Regions from separate parts of the Homo sapiens genome. Here region 2 is linked to region 1. Evidence: fine-mapped expression QTL. A gene starts in region 1. The other region holds a variant in brackets. All regions are shown on one strand. Distances are between the middles of the regions.

The links.
Region 2: its variant is fine-mapped to the expression of IL12RB2 in blood mononuclear cells (TOPMed, PIP above 0.99).

Annotation. Positions count from the first base shown.
Region 1 is chr1:67,298,343-67,315,330 of GRCh38, reverse strand. It overlaps IL12RB2 (interleukin 12 receptor subunit beta 2), which reads right to left and starts at 7,458. Exons shown (of 17, transcript NM_001374259.2): 1 at 7,364-7,458; 2 at 1,331-1,418. RefSeq lists a silencer at 7,406-7,595 and enhancers at 8,056-8,105, 8,136-8,235.
Region 2 is chr1:67,325,197-67,333,196 of GRCh38, reverse strand. It overlaps IL12RB2 (interleukin 12 receptor subunit beta 2), which reads right to left. Exons shown (of 17, transcript NM_001374259.2): 5 at 6,348-6,462; 6 at 4,813-4,997; 7 at 3,468-3,610; 8 at 2,387-2,537. Among named protein-coding and RNA genes, the nearest start is that of IL12RB2, 21 kb to the right of the region's middle. The variant T/G (reference allele first, on the strand shown) is at 3,962.

The sequences.
Region 1 (16,988 bases):
CTATAACATTCTCCAAATAGTAAAATACTCATATGATAATTATAAGGATTTAAAAAAATGGATATATATGAAATATGTTTTCATATATATTATGTCCTATTATTAAATAGGTTAAAATATATGTGTATATTATATAAACATACATATTTATATGAAATAGGTAAAATGGAAGATAAATTTGAGTTTATATAATGGTACATTGATCCAAACACAAACTTGCTCATTTTCTCTGACTACCAGGTAAAAATAGCTTCTCCTTTTATGAGAAGTTCAGAATCCCCAAAGACCTTCAAGTAAATGAGGTATCTTCCAATAAAATGAAACCTACTGTAACTGTAAACATCCTTCACATACCCTGCCTAGAGGGTAAATATTAAAACAACAACTCTGTCTTGAATCAGAAAATCAAAGAGTGTGCTATGTCATTGACTCATCACTCAAGTTGTGACAGTTTCCAGATGGTGAAAACAACGTCTCAGATCGGGGATGGGGGTGGGGTGGGCGGGAACAAGCCAGAAATACACCGACCGGTAGGAAGACAGAGACAACAATTACTCCCTGACCAGCCTCTTTCCCCATTGCTCTAGAGAGAAGCACAAAGCATGAAGCTACTTCAAAATTGTATTGTGCTAGGCTAGGAAAAAAGAAACTCTTAAGTTTCCTTTCGCAGGTGATAATCTCATGTTGGCAGAAAAACTTTCTACTTCCAAATTATTTTTCTTCTGTAGCACTGTATTAAGGTCAAGGGAAATAGTGGTATTAAGGAAAAGAAAAAGGTGAATGAATCTCAGTTCTGCTATATGCTATTGACTGTGAGAGCACCATTTCCTCATGCCTTACAGTAGGTATAGTAATACCTAGCTCGACAAAGTTACGGTGACGATTAAGGCAAAGTTATTGTGAACAGTCCATGGTGTCATGGATTCATGAGAATACTTAGCACAAAGTAAGAACCCCACTGAGGCTGGTTCCTATTTCCCCTGCTGATTCCCTCGTTTGTATTTCTTTGCTAAATCACATATGATTTTCAGTGTACTAGAGTTGTATGTTTTGTTAGGCCAGGTAAAAAAAATCTTAATTCCTAAGACCATCAAAGAACTTAAAAAGTCAGGGGAGGAAGGAGCTACACGAGTTACTAGTAACTACTGTGCCCTGCTGCTCCCTTCCCCTCCAACAGCTGACATTTCAGTCTGGGCTACCACAGACAACCAAATGATTGTTTCAAGTGTGCCTCAAGGCTGGTTGTCATATAAATGAATGTCGTTAATGATCAGGTGACTAAATGAGGCAAAGAACAAAATTCTTCCCTTCTGCCTGCAAAGCTACTTACAGAGATATGTTTTACTGGTAGCAGATCAATATACAGACAACACTTCAGAGGTCATTTATTCCCGACTTTACAAATGGATCACCGTGACCTAGAAAAAAAGAGGGGACTTGCTCAAGTTCACATTAATAGCAAAATCCAGATCAGAACCTCAGTCTCTCTCTCTCTCTCTTTCTCTCTGATGCAGTCTCGTTCTGTCACCCAGGCTGGAGTGCAATGGCACCATCTTGGATCACTGCAACCTCCACCTCCTGGGTTCAAGCGATTCTCTTGCCTCAACCTCCTGAGCAGCTGGGACTATAAGCATGCGCCACCACACCTGGCTAGCTAATTTTTGTATTTTTAGTAGAGATGGGGTTTTACCATGTTGGCCAGGCTGGTCTTGAACTGACCTCAGGTGATCTGCCTGCCTCGGCCTCCCACAGTGCTGAGATTACAGGCATGAGCCACCGTGCCCGGCCAGTCTCCTGATTTCTAATCCAACATCACTTCTAGATGTGAGGCTGCTTGTAATCAATAGCAACAGTAGCAGCATAATACTAAAAATAATGCTAATCTTAACACTATACTAATACTAATGCTGCAATTTTTTGATCTCTTACTATGTTTCAGGCACGATGCTAGGCACCTTACATACAATCTTTATGATATCTATCTAGTAAAGCATTTATAATGCCTAATGCTTTACTCTTCAGAAGGTTGACTCATTACTTCTGAGGCCCACCTCCCTCAAAAGAGGATGAAACAACAAAACTCAGCGCACATACAATATGTAACCGTATCTGATGCTATTCCACTATGGTGATGGAAAAGGATAATCAAATCAAGTTACCAATTAGCTAACCTTCTCTTCTTCATGAAATTTCCTGAGTTATGGTCATGAAAATGAACTGTTTTTCATTCCAAGTCTACCATTTGGTGAAAGAATGTAACAAGCCATTACATGGGCAAAAGCCCGTCTATCAGGCCCCATCATCAAACCGGCCCCATTCATAATGTCATGGTAAATGGCTTGAAGGGGAAGGAAAGTAAAATGCATAACCTTTTCTACTTTTTCTTCTTTCTATTCAATAGTCCAAGCACTGTTTACATGAGCCAAATTTAACACACACACTTGTTTTCCTTTTTGTGCAGCTGACGAGGCTGCCTGGAATTTTCTCTAATTTCATTGGTAAGCATTTGCTGTCCTATGGTTCCTCTTTAATTTCACCCAAGTACAGGAACTTTCTTTTCTTGCTCAAATTCAGGAGACTTCCGAATTTTTGTTCCTTTTTTTTTTTTTTTAAATTCAATGTGTTTTCTCCTTTCCCTCTTTATGGCTTTTTTTTTTTCTTAACTTCCTTTATTCTTTTCTCTCTTCTTTTCCTATTTTTTCTGGAATGTTGTTTCTGTCAATTCTGTTTGTCTTTATTTCCATTTTAGATACATCCCATTTGACATAATAGACTCCTGAAATGTTGTGCGTAAACAAATCAGAGTTGAAATGAATTTATCCCACCCCAACCCCTCAATCATCTGTACTGAGAACTATTTTATCCTATAGATTGAACAAGCATTTCTCCAATATAACAGTAAAAAGAAAGAAAGAAACAAGATACGAATGGAGTCTTGGAGAAACAAGACACTTTCAAATAAACTACATGACCTCTTTTCTTTCTTTGAATAGCTCCCATAAGCCTAAAACTTTCATGGCAAGTGTTCAATAAAGCTTCGGAAACTCCAGCCTTCTCTGATTCACTCTCTGTATCCTGCTAGGCCTATCGATAAAATAAGCTGTCTTCTATTGGGAAGGATGATGTGCTGGAAAGAGGCCCCGGGCACCATCCTTGGTTCCTCCATTTCTGCCTCTGTCACCATGGCAGGTAACTTCATACTTCAAAGCCTCCTTTCCTTATTTTAAAAATAGCAATTGACCTTTATTGAGAAAACTAAACCTCTTTCACTAACTTTTCTTCCTTAGTGTATTGGAAAGGTTTTTTCTTTGACATCCTCAATCTGGAAGTCTCTGTTTGTGGACAATGGCAGGAGGTTTATCTTTGGATCTTGGGTATTGCAAAGTCCTGGCCAAGTTTTGCTTCACCTTGTAAGCAACCACTGAGTATTTTCATAAAGTACTACAAGGCATTAACATATTAAGATAATTGCATTGTTTTGAGAATTTTCTAAGAATTTCACAATTATCTTAAGATAATTGGAGGCACACTTGGGAGGGGAATTAAAAAACTAAGGGTAGTGATCACCATGCCACAATGTTTCCCCAGGTTTCTCATATAAATTAAGAATTCAGCTGAAGTCTCTACACTAACAACCCTCCATCTCAGTATCTCCTGATATTTTACTTAATGTGTTGCTTTTCCTGCATATCATTGCAAAATAGAGGTTAATTAAGATTCTAATTTTAACAATCTTTTGTAGGCATTTACTTAGTAGTTTATCACTGTGCAAAGCATATAATTTAGTTGTTAATATTTGGTCAAATACATAAAGTAATGATTAGTATCCTATTCTACAGATAGAAAAATCTGTAAGTTGACCAAGATAACCCAGAAAAACCACACATAAATCCAGAATTGGATTCGAATTACATTCTATGCTTCCCTTCTCCATGAGCACCTGAGAAATAAAAATCCAAGCTTGATGCTCTGTTAGTCTAACTGCTTTCCCTCTTCTATCGGTTTAAATTCTGCAGGAACAGGCTTACCCCTCTCATTTATTCTCAGCATGCCTCAGGGCTCCCATGTTAAACCCACAAAGCTACTACCTCCAAGAGGCATTGAACCATGTTTACGCTCATCACCTCAGTCCAAGCTCCCAGAAGAGCCTCCTGAGCAACTGTAGTAGTAATGAAAAGAGCAGTGGATCCGCCCAGGACACCTAAGTCTTGGCTCGGATAATTCCAGCTATATGGCCTGTGACAAATCACTTGACCACTCAGCCTAAGTTCCTTCATCTGTAAAAAGGGAATACAAACAGCACCTACTGGACGGACGTGGTGACTCACACCTGTAATCCTAGCACTTTGGGAGGCTGAGGCGGGCAGATCACGAGGTCAAGAGATCGAGACCATCCTAACCAACATGGTGAAACTCCGTCTGTACTAAAAATACAAAAATTAGCTGGGCATACTGGTGTGCGCCTGTAATCCCAGCTATTTGGGAGGCTGAGGCAGGAGAATCACCTGAACCCGGGAGGCAGAGGTTGCAGTGAGCCAAGATCGCACCACTGCACTCCAGCCTGGCGACAGCAAGACTCCGTCTCAAAAACAAAAAACAAACAAACAAAAAACCAGCACCTATCTCACAGGATTGTTGGGAGGGTTAAATGACAAGCTGTTAGCAGAGTACCTGGTATATAGCAAGAGCTCAATCAATGTTACCTGCTATTATTATAAGAAAAAAGGCAGTATTACTTCTTTTCAGTGACACTACGAGAATTAAGTTAGATGGCCTTGCTTTTGACTCCTCTCTTTGCCCATTCATCTGATTTAACACTGAAAGACTGATTTGATTAAAACTAGATTCCATACCTCCTAACTTCATGCCACCTATCATTTAAGACATATTAAGTATTCTCAAAATTTTCCCAAACAATTTTGACTTCGTAGGTCATGAACTGGGCCTTACATTTCTTTATATTCACTAAGTCTAAGTCCAGCAAATGCACTGACCATAATGTACATGTTCAATACTTATTTGGAAAACAAAAACAAAAACAAACCACTGTTACACTAGCGAAGAACACTAGAAACTTCCAAGGGCAAAGGAAATTGTATAAGACTTCCTTTGGGATTTGGCTTTTTTTTTTTTTTTTTTTTTTTTTGAGATGAAGTTTCATTCTTGTCGCCCAGGCTGGAGTGCAGTGGCGTGATCTCTGCTCACTGCAACCTCTGCCTCCCGGGTTCAATCGATTCTCCTGTCTCAACCTCCCGAGTAGCTGGGATTACCATGCCACATGGTGTGTGCCACCATGCCCCGCTAATTTTTGTGTTTTCAGTAGAGACAGGGTTTCGCCATGTTGGTCAGGCTAGTCTCAAACTCCTGACCTCAGGTGATCCCCCCACCTCGGCCTCCCAAAGTGCTGGGATTACAGGTATGAGACACCGTGTCCCGCCATTCTGCACAAATTTATTTGTAGGAGTTGACAGCAGTGCTGTGAGCGTAATTACAAAGATGACAAATAATTTGGTAGAGAACAAAGCAGGTGCAGCAATACAAAAATAAGTCCACAACTGAGAAATGATGCCCAATACCTACTGTACTTGGCGGATTCTTCTACCTTAAAAATTACATGTGTGCTTTCGAATTTTTTTTCACACTAAAACTCATTCTAATACAGAAAAGATTCCGTTTGTCAAAGTTTGGGAATTTATCAGCCTATGTAATGAACATGACATTCAAGAGGCATGACATATGGAAAAGAGCATATTGCAAACTTTTCTGGAGGCTGTTGTGCCTAACAGATAGTGTAATGTATTGAGGATTTCACATTAAAATAGGGAAGGAAAGTGTTAGCTCTTAGCCACTAAGGTCCTTTTAGTTATGTGTTGGACAGAGAAATAGGGCACTGTACCATTCCTATTAATGGAAAATGAGAATCCAACGTTTGTTTGTTCAAGTGGAGGTGGTTATAAGGTTCTGAGCCAGAGAGGTGGAAACAGAAGGAACACAGTTTTGAGCCAGAAACCTGTAACTCTCTAACTGTGTGAAACATGTAAGTTTCCACATCTGTAAAATGGGAATACTAATAACAATTTCACCATGTTTTTAAGGAATTAGATAATATATATCCAAAAACCAAATACATAGTAGGTGCTCAACAAAGATGTTCATCTACACAGAGCACACACATAGCAGATTATAACAATTATCTAGAGTTTTAAAAATGGGGAAAAAAGGACTAATTTAGCTTTATTCTTTATATATATATGTGTATGTGTGTGTGTGTATATATATATATATGTATATGTATGTATGTATTTATTTTTAAGACAGAGTCTCGCTCTGTTGCCCAGGTTGGAGTGCAGTGGCCCCATCTTGGCTCACTGTAACCTCTGTCTCCCGGGTTCAAGCAATTCTCCTGCCTCAGTCTCCCGAGTAGCTGGGATTACAGGTGTGCGTCATCATGCCCAGCTAATTTTCGTATTTTTAATAGAGACAGGGTTTCACCATGTTGGCCAGGCTGGTCTTGAACTCCTGACCTCAAGTGATCTGCCCACCTTGGCCTCCCAAAATGCTGGGATTACAGGCGTGAGCCACCGTGCCGGGACCCTGTTCTTAGACAAGGTCTATTTGTATGCTTTTAGGTTACTATTTGTAAGACCTGGATCTAATGGTACAGATACATAATCCCGTACAATGCTGACACTGATATTTAGTGTGTCCTAGGGAGATGAGGAGGGCCTCATAGTTCACAAAGGAAGGGGCATTTCACAGAAGAGAAAACTGAGGCTGGCCAATTTGCTTGCACCAGAGCATCTTGCTAGTAACTGGCCAGGCAGGGACTCGGGGTCAGTCCAGAGGCCACAGGAAAGACTGCTGAGACAAGGTTAGTTCACCCTCATCCGGGACTACGGAAGGCCCCCCCCAATATCTTACTCACATTTGATACATTTTCAAGCAACGGGAGCCACGTCTGTGGGCCTGAACCAAGGCTGGACCCTCAGGGGTGCCCTCTGCCCTTTTCCAGTCGCCGTCCCCTCCCTTCCGTTTGAGCCCACCACTCTGTGCCCCGGCCCAGAGAGTACCTTGGAGGCTCAGTCCGCGCGCTCCCTCCCCTCCATCCAGCCAAACCACCACCCAGTACCTCCAAGTGAACATCTGTGCCCAGGGCGTTAGGACTGTGATGAAGAGAAGCCATTTCGGATCGTATTGGAAGACTTTAAAAATATATATATACATATATATATATAAAGAGAGAAGCCGTCGCCGAAGCCCCCTCGGGAGACGCGAGACACGGAATCCCGGGCACGCAGACACCCCGCTGGTCCGGGATCCTGGGGCTCTCTCTGTCCCCGACCCCGAGTCACTGGTCACTCACCACGTGTCGCCTGCCAGCGGGCGCGGTCCCGGGCCTGCGGGGACCGGGTGGCCCCGGTGCTCTGGGCCGCACGTGTCGCGCTCTCCGCGCTCTCTGCCGGCGCTCGGGCGTTCCCGGTGCCAGCGCCCGCCCTCCCGCCTCCGCCTCCCGCCTCTGCGCCACCAACTCCGGGGTGGGCGCGGGGAGCTGGCGGCGAGTGAGGATCGGGCCGGGGCGGGGGTCGGGGCTGGGCGGTGGCCGCAGGGCGGAGAGGACTCGCTTCTCAGTTCAGCTCTGGAAGCGCAGCCGGGCGGGCGCCCGTGGTTTCCACCCCGCGGGTCGAAGCGGGCTCGGGTGGGATTCTGCCACCTGTGGGCTCTGCTGTGTCGCCTTGAGCAAGATAATTCTCTCTCCACCGTCAGTTTCCCCTCATATAAAATGCGGATAATAAAGCCTGTCTCATAAGACGGAGCAAGGGTTGACCGAGGTGAGGTGCGTTTATGCACCAAGATATGATAGGCGCGATAAAATCGTGTGCTCAGCGTTCACAGCCATAGAGACGTGGCACTTTGTTGACAGCCATCAGGGAACTTTCCTCGCAGATGTCCTTTCTCTGTGCTCTGCACCGCCCAGCTCTTACCACACCTGAGCGCCGAGGCCTCCCAAGTGGGCTGTGCACAAGACCGCCCACTGGAGTGCGGGCAGAACATACTGGAACTTCCATTTGTATTTGCTGTCTAAAAAATGAGAAAAAAGTTAAACTTGAACAGATGGCGTGTCACCACTCCCGTATAGGTCCCGTGTTATAAGTGGTGTTCTCAGGCAAGAGGGAAAACTGCCCAGAGTACAGAGGGGTCGGCAGCTCTGCATAATATTCATGACATAATATTTATGACAATATTACTTAGAAAAAAACTGTATTTAAACCTGTAAAGACAGACTCTCACTCTGTTACCCAGGCTGGTCTCAAACTTCTGGCCTCAAGCAATCCTCCCGCCTTGGCTTCCCAAAGTGCAGGGAATACAGGCCTGAGCCTCTGCACCCGTCAGCTTAGATTTCTTTAAATCTAAGACTTCCTTAATTATAAGATATACCATTATTTATGCGCTAGTAAGAAATAAAAAGAACTGCCAGGTAAACAATAACAATGCTTTCTCAACATTTAGAATCTTTTAAACTAAAATTTTATTTAGTTTAGAGATTTTATTTAGATATCTCTAAATAAAATTTAGATTTTAAACATATGTATATTATCTATCGAATTTTTTTTTAAGTCCCCCCCCCTCCCCCACCCCGTTGTCTCTGGAGTTTTCTTCTAGTCCACTGAGCCCAGTACAGGTTTGCTGAGCCCGCAGAAGTGGACAACTGCATACCACGCTTCTGGGCATTACCTTAAAACCGCTCTCAATGTTTGAGATGTTAAATATGAAAAATGTACATCTTGGAATCAACAATGTACAGTAGATTGTCTTTATGGGATTGTGACATACTGTAGTTTACATGCTTTAGTAATTTATCTACATGAATAATTTTACTAAAATCTTTTAAATCGTAGAATCTAGAATCTTAATATTACTTTGTAATGAGATGATACATAATTGTAGAAATCATTTGTAACAAAGATTTTAAAAGTTGTCTTAAAGTGAGTTATTTTCTTTATTTTTACAAAAAAACCCCAAATATCCTAAATTTGCTGATCTTTTCTGTATTGATATATGGCTCTCAGTACATGTTATCTAATAGATCTTTTTGAAGAACAAAAAACCCCAGAGGTTTATTTGTTGTTTCTTCAAGGTAATTTTCACACCAAGTGATACGTTGTTATGAAGAGACGATTTGAAAACAAATATTTCGAAGTGTTCCCATTATTGTGTGTTTTTCTTACTGAAGATTTTATGATTGTCATCACAGAAAATGCTTTTAAAAACTCGGAAACAATTTGCTATTTTGTTTCAATCTTTTAATTGAGCAGTTCAGTGGATTTTAAATCCATTTGTTAAAAAATATAAAAATGCAGCAGCTTCTCATTACTTTAAAAACTGATTGATATCAAGAATAAGATTATGATAGCCAAATGTTATAACAATCTTGCATAATTCATGGATTTTTCAACACTTTTTAGTGAGAAGGAAGGCTTTTAGTTTTGTTAATAAATCAATAATTTCAAAAATGCATTTTACTCTATCTCATTTAAAAATTTAATTTATATATTTGTGTGTGCATATGTGTGTGTGTGTATATACACACATATAAATATACATATGTTTTTCTGTTTTTTTTTTTTTGAAACAGCGTCTCACTCTGTTGCCCCGGCTAGAGTACAGTGGCACAATTTCAGCTCACTGCAACCTCCACCTCCCGGGTTCAAGTGATTCTCCTGCCTCAGCCTCCTGAGTAGCTGGGACTACAGGCACGCGCCACCATGCCCGGCTAATTTTTGTATTTATAGTAGAGATGGGGTTTCACCATATTGGCCAGGCTGGTCTCAAACTCCTGACCTCGTGATCTGCCCACCTCAGCCTCCCAAAGTGCTGGGATTACAGGCGTGAGCCACCGCGCCCGGCATACATATGTTTTTCAAGGAAATAAAAAAACAACCAAACATATGTTGGGGATGTTTCTCAAAAATGCTTTTTTTTTTTTTCTGAAGGAGTATACCATCTAAAATGTTGAAAGACCACTGCTCTATTAACTTCTAATGGCAGCATCTTACAAAATTGCAGAAGTCAGACACAAAATGGTGTCTCAAATGCATCTAAGGCATATTCTTTGAGGGAACAGATGAGAGCTGTTGAGGAAAGAACTTGAATCTGGTTGTTAAGCAAGCACAACAAATTATGAGAATACAGTAAGATGCAGGTAGCAATGATAATCTTCTTTATTCTCTTCTTTTCCCTAGATGCAAGAAAAAAAAAGTCAGAAGATGACAACTCTTACATAAGTATTATTTGAGAAATTATCATGCTCTAGGTCCATCAGTATATTGTTTAACTTAGACTTACATTATCAAGTGAAGACTTGCACTGATTGCCATTGATAACAGTGGTTCTCTTATCCTGCATGCTCCCTGGATTATAAACTCTATGCACGCAAGGATCCCTCATCTTCAGCATCTGGCACACTGAGTGGTACAGGGCAGGTAGTCAATAAGTATTTACTGAGTTGAACTGACTTGTTCTGGAGAGATCCCATTCTTTTTGGCCAGTTCAACGGGATTGTAGGTGTTGTTCAATCTTCACACTTTTCGACAGTTAAAAATTAGTTGGAAAATTAAATATAATTTTTCTTAGCAAGTCGGTAACCTTTCTGTATGAAATCACCATCTGTAGAGGCCTTTCTATTTCCCCACTTCTTTTTTCTGCCTTCTCCTCCTATTAATATCTGGGAGTTTCACTAATACAGGCATGGCTTTTGTCAGTGGTTGCCTGTCTAGTTAGAGAAAAAAACAAAAACAAAAATAACAATGAAAACAAAAATAACAACAAAGACAAACTTGCTTCTGTGCTTTCTAAAGAATAAACCCTAGATGGTAGACGATGCCTGATGAAGCAAGAGCCTAATATACAACCCAAAATGTCAACTGTGATTGTTAATGTAATCATTTTTAAGTCTATGGGTATGATATGGTCTTCTGTGTAGCTGTTAGGTAAATGAATGTACTTGTAAATCAAAAGCTCAATTAAGTGGATAACCACAGTGACAGTGACAAAGTCTTTTCTAGGAAATACTAGTTCAGTTTCCATTTCTGGTATAGTTCCATTACTTTAAATGTCTAATTTGGTTCATTGCTGATACCAAACACCCTGAAAATACGTAATCACACTATTCTATGAATAACTGAGATGTGCTTTTCCTAAAGTGTCACTTGTCAGGATAAATACTAGGAGGTGGTTGCTAACATAGTCATTTAGGGCATCAAATGAATGCTGGCACTCGTTAAACTTGGTAAGACGGTTTTAACATCATTTTAAACTTTTACTTATAATGAGAAAACTCAGAATCTAAGATTAACTGTTCAACCTTAACTGCTTCATTTTGTAAAAGTTTCATTTCTAAAAGTTATTACTTTGTTAGTTTTACTCATCTCTCCAAAGTATTAAACTTATAGGACAGCAACATAACTCCTGAATATATTTGTAGTGTTATGTATTGAAAAAGTTTATATAAAATTAAAATAGTGCAATACCAGATTCTCAGATTATGAATAATCTCCATAATTCTTAAAATGTAGACTTATACCTTCTCCACAACTGACATTTAACAAGCACAAACATTGTTTATAGAGGAACAAACTGGCCAGGCTCAGTGGCTCATACATATAATCTCAGCATTTTGGGAGGCTGAAGCAGGTGGATCACCTGAGGTCAGGAGTTCAAGACCAGCCTGGCCAAAATGGAGAAATCCCATCTCTGTTGAACATACAAAACTTAGCCAGGCATGGTGGCACTCACCTGTAATCCCAGCTACTCAGGAGGCTGAGGCAGGAGAATGGCTTGAACCCGGGAGTCAGAGGTTGCAGTGAGCCAAGATGGCACCATTGCACTCCAGCCTGGGCAACAGAGCAAGACTCTGTCCAAAAAAAAAAAAAAAAAAGATGAACAAACCACATGGAAATTGCCATGTCTTGGAGAGCAGCAGTGCGTTTTTGAGAGGTCTTTAGATTGCTGGATGCCTTGTTAAATGAACATAAAGGTTAAAGAGTAAAGTGAGACATGAGGTAAATTTAAAGCTGTGATAGCTGCAGGGTCCTACACAACATAAACTTTATTCACAAACTGGCTCTGCTATTCTTAGCAGCTAAATCTAAACATATGTTACAGGATTCACAGATTCCATCATGTCATGGCTGGTTACCTGATCATCAGAGCCAGAACTTTTGGTGGTGCAAAACTTTGGCAAGTTCTTATAAAAAGGAGAGTGATTTGCATAAAAGGCAAATTTCTCACAAACATTCCCACATAAAACCACACATATGTTCCTCATTTTTGTTGTCGTTGTTGTTTGTTTGTTTTTGGTTTGTTGTAGAGTACATCAACAGAAGCCCTATGAGAAGTACTCTGAAATGTGGATGTATAATCATTAAGATTCTTTTCTACATTCCACTCTTCTGGCTTCAAATGTCCTTTTTTTCCATGCTTCTCATACATAGAAAATACTCTGATTTCCCAAATGAGACAACCCAAAGTCCTGTCCAGTCATGGCATCCAGCTGAGATCCAAGCTCTCTGAAAAATGAGCAGTGGTGGCTACCTAGTGAGATATGCCTCCTCTGGGTCCACAGCCTATAAACAAACAAGTAAAAAACCCAGGTTACCTGCACCTCCCACCTCGCCCTGCCCCGCTCCAAGGATATAAAATGGTGGAACAGGGACAATGAATGCTCAGCTTAGGAAACAGAGAAGCATGTGACACACCAGAAGTCACTGGTCCAAAGTACCACTGTCTTCAGTGGTGAATGCATTAGTTTTTTTATTTTGGCCTGTAGGACCTCTGCTAAAGAGGCAGGAAGAATCTCAATTAAGTATCCTTTTCTACAAATCAAACACTGCAGAGTAGTATCAAATGTTAATAATATTTCCTTTCCCCTCCAGTCTCTCCTTCCCAAATAATAGTTTTACGAGAATCTTTCCACATTTTTCTTCATGCCTTTATAGACGTATAAAAGCGTTTTAGGTTTTTCTTTTATATTTAAGCCATACAGAAAATATATTCTAGGTTTAAACAAATTGAGCTATTCTATTTCCCTATCTGTCCATCCATCTATCTTTCGTTTTCCTTTTACCACATGACACAAACTTCATTCCATAATGCACGTAGTAGCGCTCTCATTTTTTTTCTTTTTTCCTCTCTCTCTTTTTTTTTTTTTTTTTTTTTTTTTAGACAGAGTCTCACTCTGTTGCCCAGGCTGGAGTGCAGTGGCACGATCTCAGCTCACTGCAGCCTCCGCCTCCTGGGTTCAAATGATTCTCCTGCCTCAGCTCTCAAGTAGCTGGGACTACAGGCATGTGCCACCACACCCTGCTAATTTTTGTATTTTGTATTTTTAGTAGAGCCTCGGCCTCCCAAAAGTGCTGGGATTACAGGCATGAGCCACCGTGCCTGGCCTCATTTTTTTTTTCAATAGCTACAAGTATTCCATACCATGCATGTACTAAGATTTAGTCAACCATTCTCTTATTTACAGGTCTTCAGGTTTCTAATTCCCACCTGCCCCCTTGTCTCCCCCAAAATGCAGCATATTCACCAAAATAAAAATATTCTTACACATATACTTGTACAAATATATGGTGCTTTTATTTGTGGGTAACATAATCTCACATGTAGCTTGTTGAATCAAAGGATATGAGCTTTTTCTCTTTAATGGATTATGCCACATTACTATCCAAATTATAGTAATTCATACTTCCACTAGCATGCCACATTATCACTAATAGTGAATGCTATAAATCTTCTGTAATTATCAATCTATCAATCTAACATGTAAAAAATGATATTTCATTGCCTTACACTGTGTATCTTTGACTGCAAACATCTTCTCATATGTCTGATAGTTTAAAAATATGTATTATTATTCATCTATCACAGTCTACCTTCAAATAGTAGGCCAGTTTATGTATAATACAAAAACTTTACAACAGTATGCTTCTATCCTTATATCTTTTGTACTATTTGATTGTACATTTTACTTTCATTTATGTTTTAAGCCCCATGATACATTATTACTATTTTTGCTTTACTTAGTTATCTTTTAAAAAATTAAAAAATATAAAACCCAAAATTTTCTATATTTCCTCATATATTTACAATTGCAAGTGCTATTTATTCCTTTGTATAGATCAAAGTTTCCAGCCGGTATCATTTCCCTTCAGCCTAAAGAACTTATTTTAATATTTCCTATAGGACAGGTCTGCTCTTGACAAACTTTCTTAGCTTTTGTGTTCTTAAAAATTGTTTTATTTTGCCTTCATTTTTGAAGAATTTTTTTTACTGTATGTAAAATTCTAGGTTTACTTCTCCTCCTCCCAGCATATTAAACATATTATTTCATAGTTTTCTGGCTTGCATCGTTTCTGTTGAGAAGTCAGTGTTAAGTCTAATCTTGCATTCCTGTAATTTTTTTTCTCTTAATGCCTTTCAGATCTCCTTATAATGGACTTTCAACTATTATATTATGATGTGCCTTGGTGTGGTTTCCTTTGTGTTTATTCTGCTTAGTATTTATTGAGCTTCTTGGATCTGTGGTTTTGTAGTTTTTGCCAAATTTGGAAAACTTTTCAGATTTATTTCTTCAGTTGTTTCTTCTGCCTACCATCGCTAGATTCTAATTACACAATTTTGGTGTGTTTGATACTGTGCTACAGGTCACTGAGGCTCTATTCACTTTTTTTTCAGTCCTTTTTTTCTCTGCTTCAGTTTGCTGATTGCTATATCTCCAAGTTCATTGCTTTTTCTTCTGCAGTGTCAAATCTGTGAAATCCATCCAATTAGTTTTTTACATAAGTAAGATATTAAAGTATTTTTCAGCTCTGGAAATTCCATTTATTTTTTATAGTTTCAGTTTCTCTTATTATTAGTTTTTCTCTTTAAATCCTTGAGATTTTTATAATAGTTGTAAAATCCTTGTCTGCTATTTCTGTTATCTCTGTTGTTTCTGGGTCTGTTTCTATTGCTGACTTTTCTCCTAGTTATGAGTCTTATTATTTGTGCTTCTTTGCCCATCTAGTAGCTTTTTTCTACTGAACCCTTGAGATTGTGAATGTTGCATGACCTGCAAAGCCTAAGATATTTGTTATCTGGCCCTTTAAAGAAAAGTTGCCGCGCCCTGCCCTAGATGTACAGAATTGGGTTGAGTAAAATTGTCAGTATACGGAGTTCACAGTACGCAATTGTCTTTTTAAATCCACATCCCCTTTTAATTTTTTGTTTTATCTTATTTTCTTTTCCCTTCATTTATCATTCATCTCAATGCTATTCTTCTTTCTACTCCATTGACACTCTTATTTATAAATATCTTCCCAATTCACATCCCTTGTGTTTATTTACATACATATGGATCTGTGATAAAATACATTGCTATATGCTTTAAAATTTTAAATAAATGGTAGTATGTTATAGATTTAATACTGCTTTTAAGTTTTTTCTCCATCAACATTATGTTTTTATAGTCAATCCATGTTGCTACAAGTAGCTTCATTCTTTCAGCCTGCTGCATAGCATTCCATCACCAGCATAAGCCACATTTACATGGCCATGCTCATATTGATGGGCTTCTAGGTTGCCTCCAATTCCTTGCTACCACAAATAATACCTTGATAAAAGAACATCCTAATGTATGTCCCTTGTGTGCATATCTGGGTGTTTCTATGAGGTGTGTATCCAGAAACAGAAGTGCTGGGTCATAAGAGATGCACCCACTCAATTGTACTAAGTACTACCACATTGCTCTCCAAAATTGGCTGTGCCAGTTGGCATTCATATGAGTACCACATAAAAATATGTTTGCCCACATCCTTTCCAGAATTTTGTCTTATCCAACTTTATTTGTTTCCTGTTGCTTTGCAACAAATTACTACAAACTTACTGGCTTATGGCCGGGTGCAGCGGCTCACGCCTGTAATTCCAGCACTTTGGGAGGCCGAGGTGGGCGGATCACGAGGTCAGGAGATCGAGGCCATCCTGGCTAACATGGTGAAACCCCGTCTCTACTAAAAATACAAAAAATTAGCTGGGCGTGGTGGTGGGCACCTGTAGTCCCAGCTACTTGGGAGGCTGAGGCAGGAGAATGGTGTGAACCCAGGAGGCGGAGCTTGCAGTGAGCCAAGATCGCGCCACTGCACTCTAGCCTGGGTGACAGAGCGAGACTCCATCTCAAAACAAACAAACAAACAAAAAAACAAAAAAACTTACTGGCTTACAACAATACAAACTTTTACAGTTCTGAAGGTCTGAAGTTTGAAATGGGTATGGTTGAGCTAAAAACCAACGTGTTGGCAGGGCTGCATTCTCTTCTGGTGCCTCTAGGAGAGAATTCTTTTTCTTGCCTTTCCTAGCTGCTACAGCTACTGGCACTCTGGCTTATGATGGCTTCCTTCCATTTGCAAACACAGCAATAGCCAGTCAAATCCTTCTCACCTCCTATTACTCTAACACTCTTTCTTCTCACTCCTTCTTCCATAGTACAAGAATGCTTGTGACTACATTGGGCTCACCTGAATAACCTCTCAATCTTGAAGTCAACTCACTAACAACCTTAATCCCATCTGCAGCCTTAATTCTCTTTTGTCATGTAACCTAACATATTCACAGACTCTGGGGATTAGGATGTAGATCTCTTTGGGAGGTCATTTTTTTTCTGCCTGCCACATGAACTTTCTAATTTTTGCCAATCTGTAAAGCATCTCAGTGAAGCTAAAATGCACAAAGAACTCCTGTACATTGATAAAGAAAAGAAAATGAATAGGAAATAAGTAATTGATAAAAATAGACAATTCATAGGCGGAGAAACCTGAAAGGCTAATAAATATATGAAAAGATGTTCAACTTCACTATTAATAATAGAAATACACATTAAAACTATACCGAGACCATTTTTGCAATAGTTTCACAGTTGTGCAACCATCACTACAATGAATTTTCTTTCCTTATTT
Region 2 (8,000 bases), 22 kb before region 1:
AACAACCCACAGAAAAATCAAACATAGAAAAGGGAGATTCAGAGACAGAAAGGAAGCCAACAGAGCTTGGTAAAGGTGGTGTATCTCAGAGTATGGGTTTCTCTCTTTATGAATACCTTCAGTGACTGAATAAGCCAGCTTCCTAGGTTCAATTCATAATCATCCATGAGTTCATAACCATAATGAGTTGCTATACTCATTGTTATGATGGTGGTTTATTTTATAGGAAATAAGAAAGTTACTGTGCTGCCTTGAAGGAATTTTAATTCAAAAGACAAACACTTTTTAAAAAAGAAAAGAAAAACCTTTTCACACATCTCTAACTAGGTCATTATCATATGTGAGTAAGAATGACAAGAATTCACAAGCCCAGAGTTTCCCTAGTTTATAGTTTAGCTTAATGTGATATAACTTAAATATTTTTCAGACTACTTACTACCTTGAACTTGGATATAAAATATAGCCCATTTTCAGAAGTTTTATCTGTACCACATATATAAACAAAATCTAATTCATGAGATAGTCTTTAAAAAAATTACTTTGACTATATATAATAAAACGATATTATGAGTAAGCTCTGGATTATAAAAGTAACAACCAGAGGGCAAGTGGTTCAACATTAAGAGATTTTATTATAAAATGAGTGGTAATAAATTATCATTTGTTGGATAAATTCACTTTTAGACAATTTTTAAAATATATTCTGTAATCCCAGCACTTTGGGAGGCCGAGGCAGGTGGATCACCTGAGGTCAAGAGTTCGAGACCAGCCTGGCCAACATGGTGAAACCTGTCTCTACTGAAAATAACAAAAATTAGCCGGGCATGGTGGCGCATGCATGTAATCCCTGCTACTTGGGAGGCTGAGGCAGGAGAATCACTGGAACACAGGAGGCAGAGGTTGCACTGAGCTGAGATTGTGCCACTGCACTCCAGCCTGGGTGACAGAGCAAGACTCTGTCTCAAAAAAAAAAAAAAATGCAATTAATACAAGAAGTAAGGAAGAATATAAGATTATTCTATGAATCATATATTAGGTATTATATTCTGCTAAAGGCCCTTCCGTTCCTTGAATGTCATTGATGTATGATTGCTAAGGATCATCAGTTATCAAAAGCCATTAGTAGCTCACAGAAAATAAATGCAACTTAATTATGAGGCTAGTTTACATGCACACATATCCATAAATTTCACAAATAAGAATTTAGATTTTGCACGTTAATGTTACAAAAGCTCCAGATAATGAACAATGGATTATATGCCAAAAAGTTTTTCTCTGAGTCAAATTTATATAAATTATGAAAGACTCTCTACTATATCACTAAATGAGTGCATTTATTTATTTATTTATTTATTTATGAGATGCAGTCTCGATCTGTTGCCCAGGCTGGATTGCAGTGGCACAATCTTGGCTCATTGCAACCTTTGCCTCCTGGGTTCAAGTGATTCTCCTGCCTTAGCCTCCCGAATGGCTGGGATTACAGGCACGCACCACGATGCTTGGCTAATTTCTTGTCTTTTTGGTAGAGATGGGATTTCACCATGCTGGCCAGGCTGGTCTCGAACTCCTGACCTCGTGATCTGCCCACCTCAGCCTCCCAATGTGCTGGGATTACAGGCCTGAGCGACCATGCCGGCCTAAATGAGTGCTTTTAAAAACTAATATTCAGATGGCTATTTCTTGTGTCTCCAAAGATTTAATATTGGCATAAAGTTTACATAGGCATTTTTGCTTCAATAAAATATTTTCTTATACTTCAATAACATTCCCTTCCCAATAATTACTAAAAAAGAAAAATTCATCAGACTGAAAAACACATTTGATATCCTTTTCATAGTTATGGGTGGCCAGGTGGTTCTCATTTGTGCAGTAAATATCAAAGGCTTGAAGTACAGTGTTATAATATTTGGACAAGAGAGGATTGCTGGATGCTAAATTTTATTTTGAAATATGTGTCTCCAGAGCCTACTTTCTTTCAAGCTTTCCATATGGCTTATTGAGCCACATTACTTTTCATAGAATCAAAAATATAAAACATATGAAGCTTTAACAAGAAATGAGATTAATTACTGGTTATAGCTCTGTGAAATAAGTTACTGAGATAGTAAGAGAGATAAGTTATAACCAAGCATTATAACCAACATGACTGATAGCAAACAGGAGTAGAACTTACCCAATGTTAAAAATTTCCTTGCAACACAAACATATTTCCTTGAACAGTTTCAGCACTTAAGTTAATATAAAAATTAACTTGTTAACTAATGCAGTCATGCTTTTTGATTCAGCACCAGTAGTTTAAAGATTCTATTCCAAGGAAATCATTACATCTTCCCCCCTCTCTCCCCTTTATTGCTCCCCGATAGGTATGTATATTTTGGACATATACCTTCTTCTGGTGTTTGTGCTCTCAATGATTCACTCCAATCACTCCAACTTCCCTTATAAAGATGTAGCTTAGAGGAAATCTGAAATTCATATTCTGTAAATGGTTTCAGATCCAGCAAATCATGTCTTCCTTTGGCCTTTGTAACATTAACCTTGAAACAGACATTTTTTTAAAGTGCCTATTAATACTAGATTGCTAATTTAAGGAATTTTAACATAAAATGAAAAAAAAAAAACCCAGGCTATTTGATCTTATTTGTTTTTCAGACCTACCATTAAATGAGAAGAAATATCAGTGACTGTCTTACCGAATAGATATGATATTAATCTGAAATGATAGCATCTCATTAAAAATAAAACAAAATCTCTGGGTACTAAGAACCCATCTATGTAGGTTCTCGAGGGGAATCCTGAAACCAGCTGAAAAATAAGATTGAAAACTACAAAGTTTCTACACTAGAGATTATTTTTTATTTGATTACAATTAGGATGTGATGAATGTTTTAACACAAACATAGCACTGGCTTTTTTTTTTTTTAAAAAAACCCTTTAATTAGTTATACTCTCTTGAATATCAGCTATCTGTGGGACTGATCCTTTGTTATTATAAGCCATTGAATTTTACAACAATCCCGGAAAGAATCATAATCCTATACCTTTTATTTTAAAACATGCAATGCCTAATATTATATTAAATTGTAGACCTTTTCTTTGGAATATTAAATTCTATATAACTCTCTGTGGACATTTCTTAATATTTCTCTTTTCAATATCTTTTTTAAATGCTAAAAAATAATAACAGGACAGGGTAAATAATAAGGAGAAATGAATCCTCTGTTAGAAATAAACTATAGAAAATTAATATTGGTTTACAAAAGCTTTAAAAATTTCAGAATCAGAGATCAAAATTCAAGATATTTCTTAATCAACAGAGGCATACATGACTTTCTGATAATTCTCTCGTGTGTACTTTTGGGATAAATATTCTTAAACTCTATTTTTTGCTGTATGAAAAGACAGAGGTCTGCGCAGCAATATTAAGAATGCTTCAGTGTTTTTTCCTTCACTCTAAAGATAATTACCATATTCCAGAGCCTGCTGTTACTGGGCCGATATCTGAGTCGATTAAGCAGTACCAGTCCCTCATCTCTCCAATAAAGGGTACATCTGCTCACAGAAGCCTTTTGAAATTTGATTCTAATGTCCCACGGAGGAAGAGGCCTCACTAGTAACCAGGACAAACAAAAAAGTGTGGTTCAGGATCTGTGATCAGCAATTGTCTTATGTACTGGCATGAGCTATAAAGAGTTTGACAAAACTCAGTTCTGAGATGCACAACCATCAAATTTGGTAAAATATACAAGAGAAAAGTTCCAGGCTTTAAGAAAGAACTTTTTTAAAAGCTGGATTCACTTCTGAATCTTTAAAATAATCCCCCTTAATCAAATCTCATTTTCACCAAATAACTACTACCAACATTAGTGGTAAGTTTCAACTACACTTAGTCCAGTGGTTTTTCAAAAACCAATGTGCCAAACCCAAGAGTTCCAATGACTGAGAAGCCAGAGACGGCTAG[T/G]GATGACTGCCTCAGGAGGAGAAGAAATGTTCGTAGGAAAATTCATAGCAAAGGGACAGAGGAAAAGAACAAGGGGGCGAGAAGGTAGCCTAGAGATGAACGGTCTATGAAAGAAATGGGAGGAAGCCTGAGAAGAAATATGGTGGAAAAGTGTATAGTAAATGCCAATGATCAGACTCATCGTTAGCAATATGTATGCAGAGAAGTGCCATGGAAAGAGAGGCGAGAAGCACATAGTGTGAGGTTGGAACTTCAGGCAGCCCAGTTCTGCCTGGATGGTCAGAACTTGGAATGCTTGAGATTGGCCTCTGATTCAACTGGACCGATTACATTTGCTCAGAAATGTACTGGCTCACTCCAGGGATGGAGGTGAGTATTCTCAGAGCAAGATGCATCTGTGACTTGAGAAATTTTATTTATAGTTTGTACCTCGCTGCTCTAGCCTAGCAGGCCCACATGTAGCCTATCTCACAACAATGGGAGTAGCCATGGGGGCGAAAGGACACCTCCTCCAAGAAGGGCTTGCACTGAGCATCTTGAATGACCTCACAGGACCCTCTCCTCAGTCAGGTGGTATCATTAGTAGCTGGTTCTTTCATGGGATTTGAATCCAGGGGCTAATTTCTTCAATAGAGAGAATAATGTTGAACATCCCACTTTGTATAGCCATCTTTAGATAGCTCAGAATAATGCACCCTTTTACTTGCATCAAAGTAACTTCTATCTTTTGCTTATGCCTGTTGGCCAATTTCCATCAATCTCTGTCTTTCTTGAAACAACCATATAAAAAAGATTTGAGTGATTTTAAAAATAATTATAAAGTACCAATGAAACAGTGAAATAAAATGTACCTATGTCCAAGAATGTGAATGTGGATGGAAGTGAAGAGGAGCTTCCAAGACTATTGACAGCAGTAACCTTGGCTGTGAAATTGGATTCAGGTGATTCAGGGGTGAGGTTGATTCCAAAGTCCAAATAGTCACAATAAATGTCTTTACATTGCTTCTGCCAGGTTAAATTTTTTGGTCCACTTAGCCTGTAAACAAAACACAACCACGTGTAGCAACATGTTTTATGTGCTACTTTCTACTTACAGTAGAAAAGAACAAAATGTTTAAATATTTAGAATTCTAGACAATTTTTAAAGGTCAATCTTATGACTAGGGGATACACCCCGGGAATATTTGTACTATATGGTCATGTAAGACTATACTTCACCCAACTCCCTTTTTTGGTAGAACTGAGATGTTCTTCCACATTCATGTAGATAGGTAACCAAGCCTACGCTGCTGAAATTCCCCAAACCCTGCTTGTCATCTTGGCTCCCCAGGGCAGTTCCAAACATTATCCTAAGCACTGTGGCCACCTTGACATCTGTGGCACAGAATTGTCAGTTCCTAGTACAGCAGTGGCCAGAGTAGAATCCTGGGCTATTTTACCCTAATACTGAGACCCGCGTGTCAATAGATGTTTCCTTTAGGTTAGAAAAAGTAAATGTACTACAGAACCCCTCCTTTCCTCCATCTCCTCCTCACTCAGGAATAGCACAAATCAGCTGGATCTTTAATGGGATCATGAAATCTACTTCAAGGAACAGAATCTCCCAGACTCTCTCTTCTCATGGACTCTTAGGTCAGCCAATGGTGCTTTAAAAAGAAACTTATCCAAGCGAATGGGAAACTACCACAAGGAAGAGTTTATTTATGTATCATGACCCCAAGAGCCTACAGCTGCAGAAAAGAGAAGCGATCTTATGCAGCCAGTTTAACCCTACTAGAGTGGGAAAGAACAGCTATAACTTGGATCTTGGATGCACTGAAGAGAACTCTGAGTTAGAACTCAGACCCAAGACATTCGGTCTCTCATACTGTAGATGAATGAACCAGTTTTAACTATAAACATAGAAACTCTTTAAAAAGTATCTAATTGTCTAGAAGTATCTATTGCTTCTCCTTTCTGGTAAAAATAAAACAGATAGGCCGGGCACCGTGGCTCACACCTGTAATCCCAGCACTTTGGGAGGCTGAGGCGGGTGGATCACGAGGTCAAGAGATCGAGACCATCCTGGCCAACATGGTGAAACCCCGTCTCTGCTAAAAATACAAAAATTAGCTGGGCGTGGTGGTGGGTGCCTGTAATCCCAGCCACTCAGGAGGCTGAGGCAGGAGAATCACTTGAACCCAGGAAGCAGAGGTTGCAGTGAGCCGAGATTGCGCCACTGCACTCTAGCCTGGTGACAGAGTGAGATTCCGTCTCAAAATAAATAAATAAATAAATAAATAAATAAATAAAATAAAATAAAAATAAATAAAGAAAACAGATATTTCTAAATGTCATTTAAGAGAAGATCTACAAAACAGCTGCAAAAATACAGCCTCTCACTCACTGTAGAGTATACTCAGTGTATAAGTGGGTGTCTCGTCCTCTTTCCCAGGTGCAGGCCACAGTCCCCTGTTCTCCCTTCTGTATGCAGGATAAATTTTGAGGCTGTTCTGGAGCAACTTTAAAAAGAAAAGACAAAACCTTATATATCACACAGGTGATATTTCAACCGAATTGTTATTATCTGCCATCAACATGACAATACGTCCCCCACATGCCGTAAACCCAGGTAAACTAGAAGCTATTTTAGATTCCATTCAAGTCCCAGTTTGCCATTAAGGTGTAAATTTCTCCTAGAAACAGTAATAATAGTAGTGAATATGGATCAAATACTATATGCCTAGCCCAGTGCTATGTGCAGTTTTTCTGAATTAGACAGCGTAGCACCCCATGAGGTAGATACTATTATTATATTTTTTTTCAGAGAGGAAACTGAGAGAGGTGAAATATCTGGCCCAAGATCATAAAATTATGAAGTGGCAGATTCAAGGCTCCAGCTCAGCTGTAACTCAAGTCCAAGCCTTTTACTCCATATTCTACCATTTTCCCTGACAGGTGAACATCCAGTGCTAGCTCCATTACCCCTGGTAATAATAAATTAATTTCTTTTAGAGTGATGCCCATTCAAATATTAGAAACCTTTAAAAATGAGAGACTTATTTGCTTTCTTCACCTGATATTTGCTGTCAAGACACTTACACCCAGTTGCCTCAGTCATGTCCTCCCGGGCTATACCATCTAAATCTAATTTCTGCATTGTCTCTTGGAGCACTTTATGGACATTTATAAATTAATTCTTTTGTGTACATAGGCATTGAGTACCTCCCACGAGCCAAGCACAGTGCTAGATGTGGAAATACAAAGATGTACAAAGCAAGCATGGTCCCTTCTATTGTAAGGTGTGTATTTTTAAATAAAGCTATTTTATGGTGAAAGGACCCAAACTAGGAATTTTTTGGACAAAATGGAGGTAAGAGAAATACTCAGCTATTCAGTCATCCCATTTTACCCTAATACCCAGACCCACGTGTAGATACATATTTCCTTTAGGTTAGATAAAATGAGTATACTACAGAAGTCCTAGCTATTGTCTACACTGAAAAAATCTGTTATTGATTAAATAAATATCTTTTTTGTCCTTAGCATCCACCATAGACATAGGCACAGGAATGCCCACTGTGTGACCTTGGACAAGTCAGAGCTTCAGTTGAATCTATAAAATGGGTATAATGATATCTAGCTCATATAGTTTTAATAGAATAATAAACTTTTCCTTTAAAAAAGTCTCTTTTCGCTGGATGCGGTGGCTCACGCCTGTAATCCCAACAATTTGGGAGGCTGAGGTGGGCAGATCACTTGAAGTTAGGAGTTTGAGACTAGCTTGGCCAACATGGTGAAACCTCTTCTTTACTTAAAATACAAAAATTAGCTGGGTATGGTGGCACATGCTGTAATTCCAGCTACTGAGGAGGCTGAGGCGTGAGAATCACTTGAACTCAAAAGGTAGAGGTTGCGACGAGCTGAGATTGTGCCAGTGCACTCCAGCCTGGGTGACAGAGTGAGACTTTGCCTCAAAAAAGAAAGAAAAAAACAACAACAACACAAAACCACTGGAGGCTCTTGCTGGAAGTAGAATAAAGGAATGTTGCCAATAAAT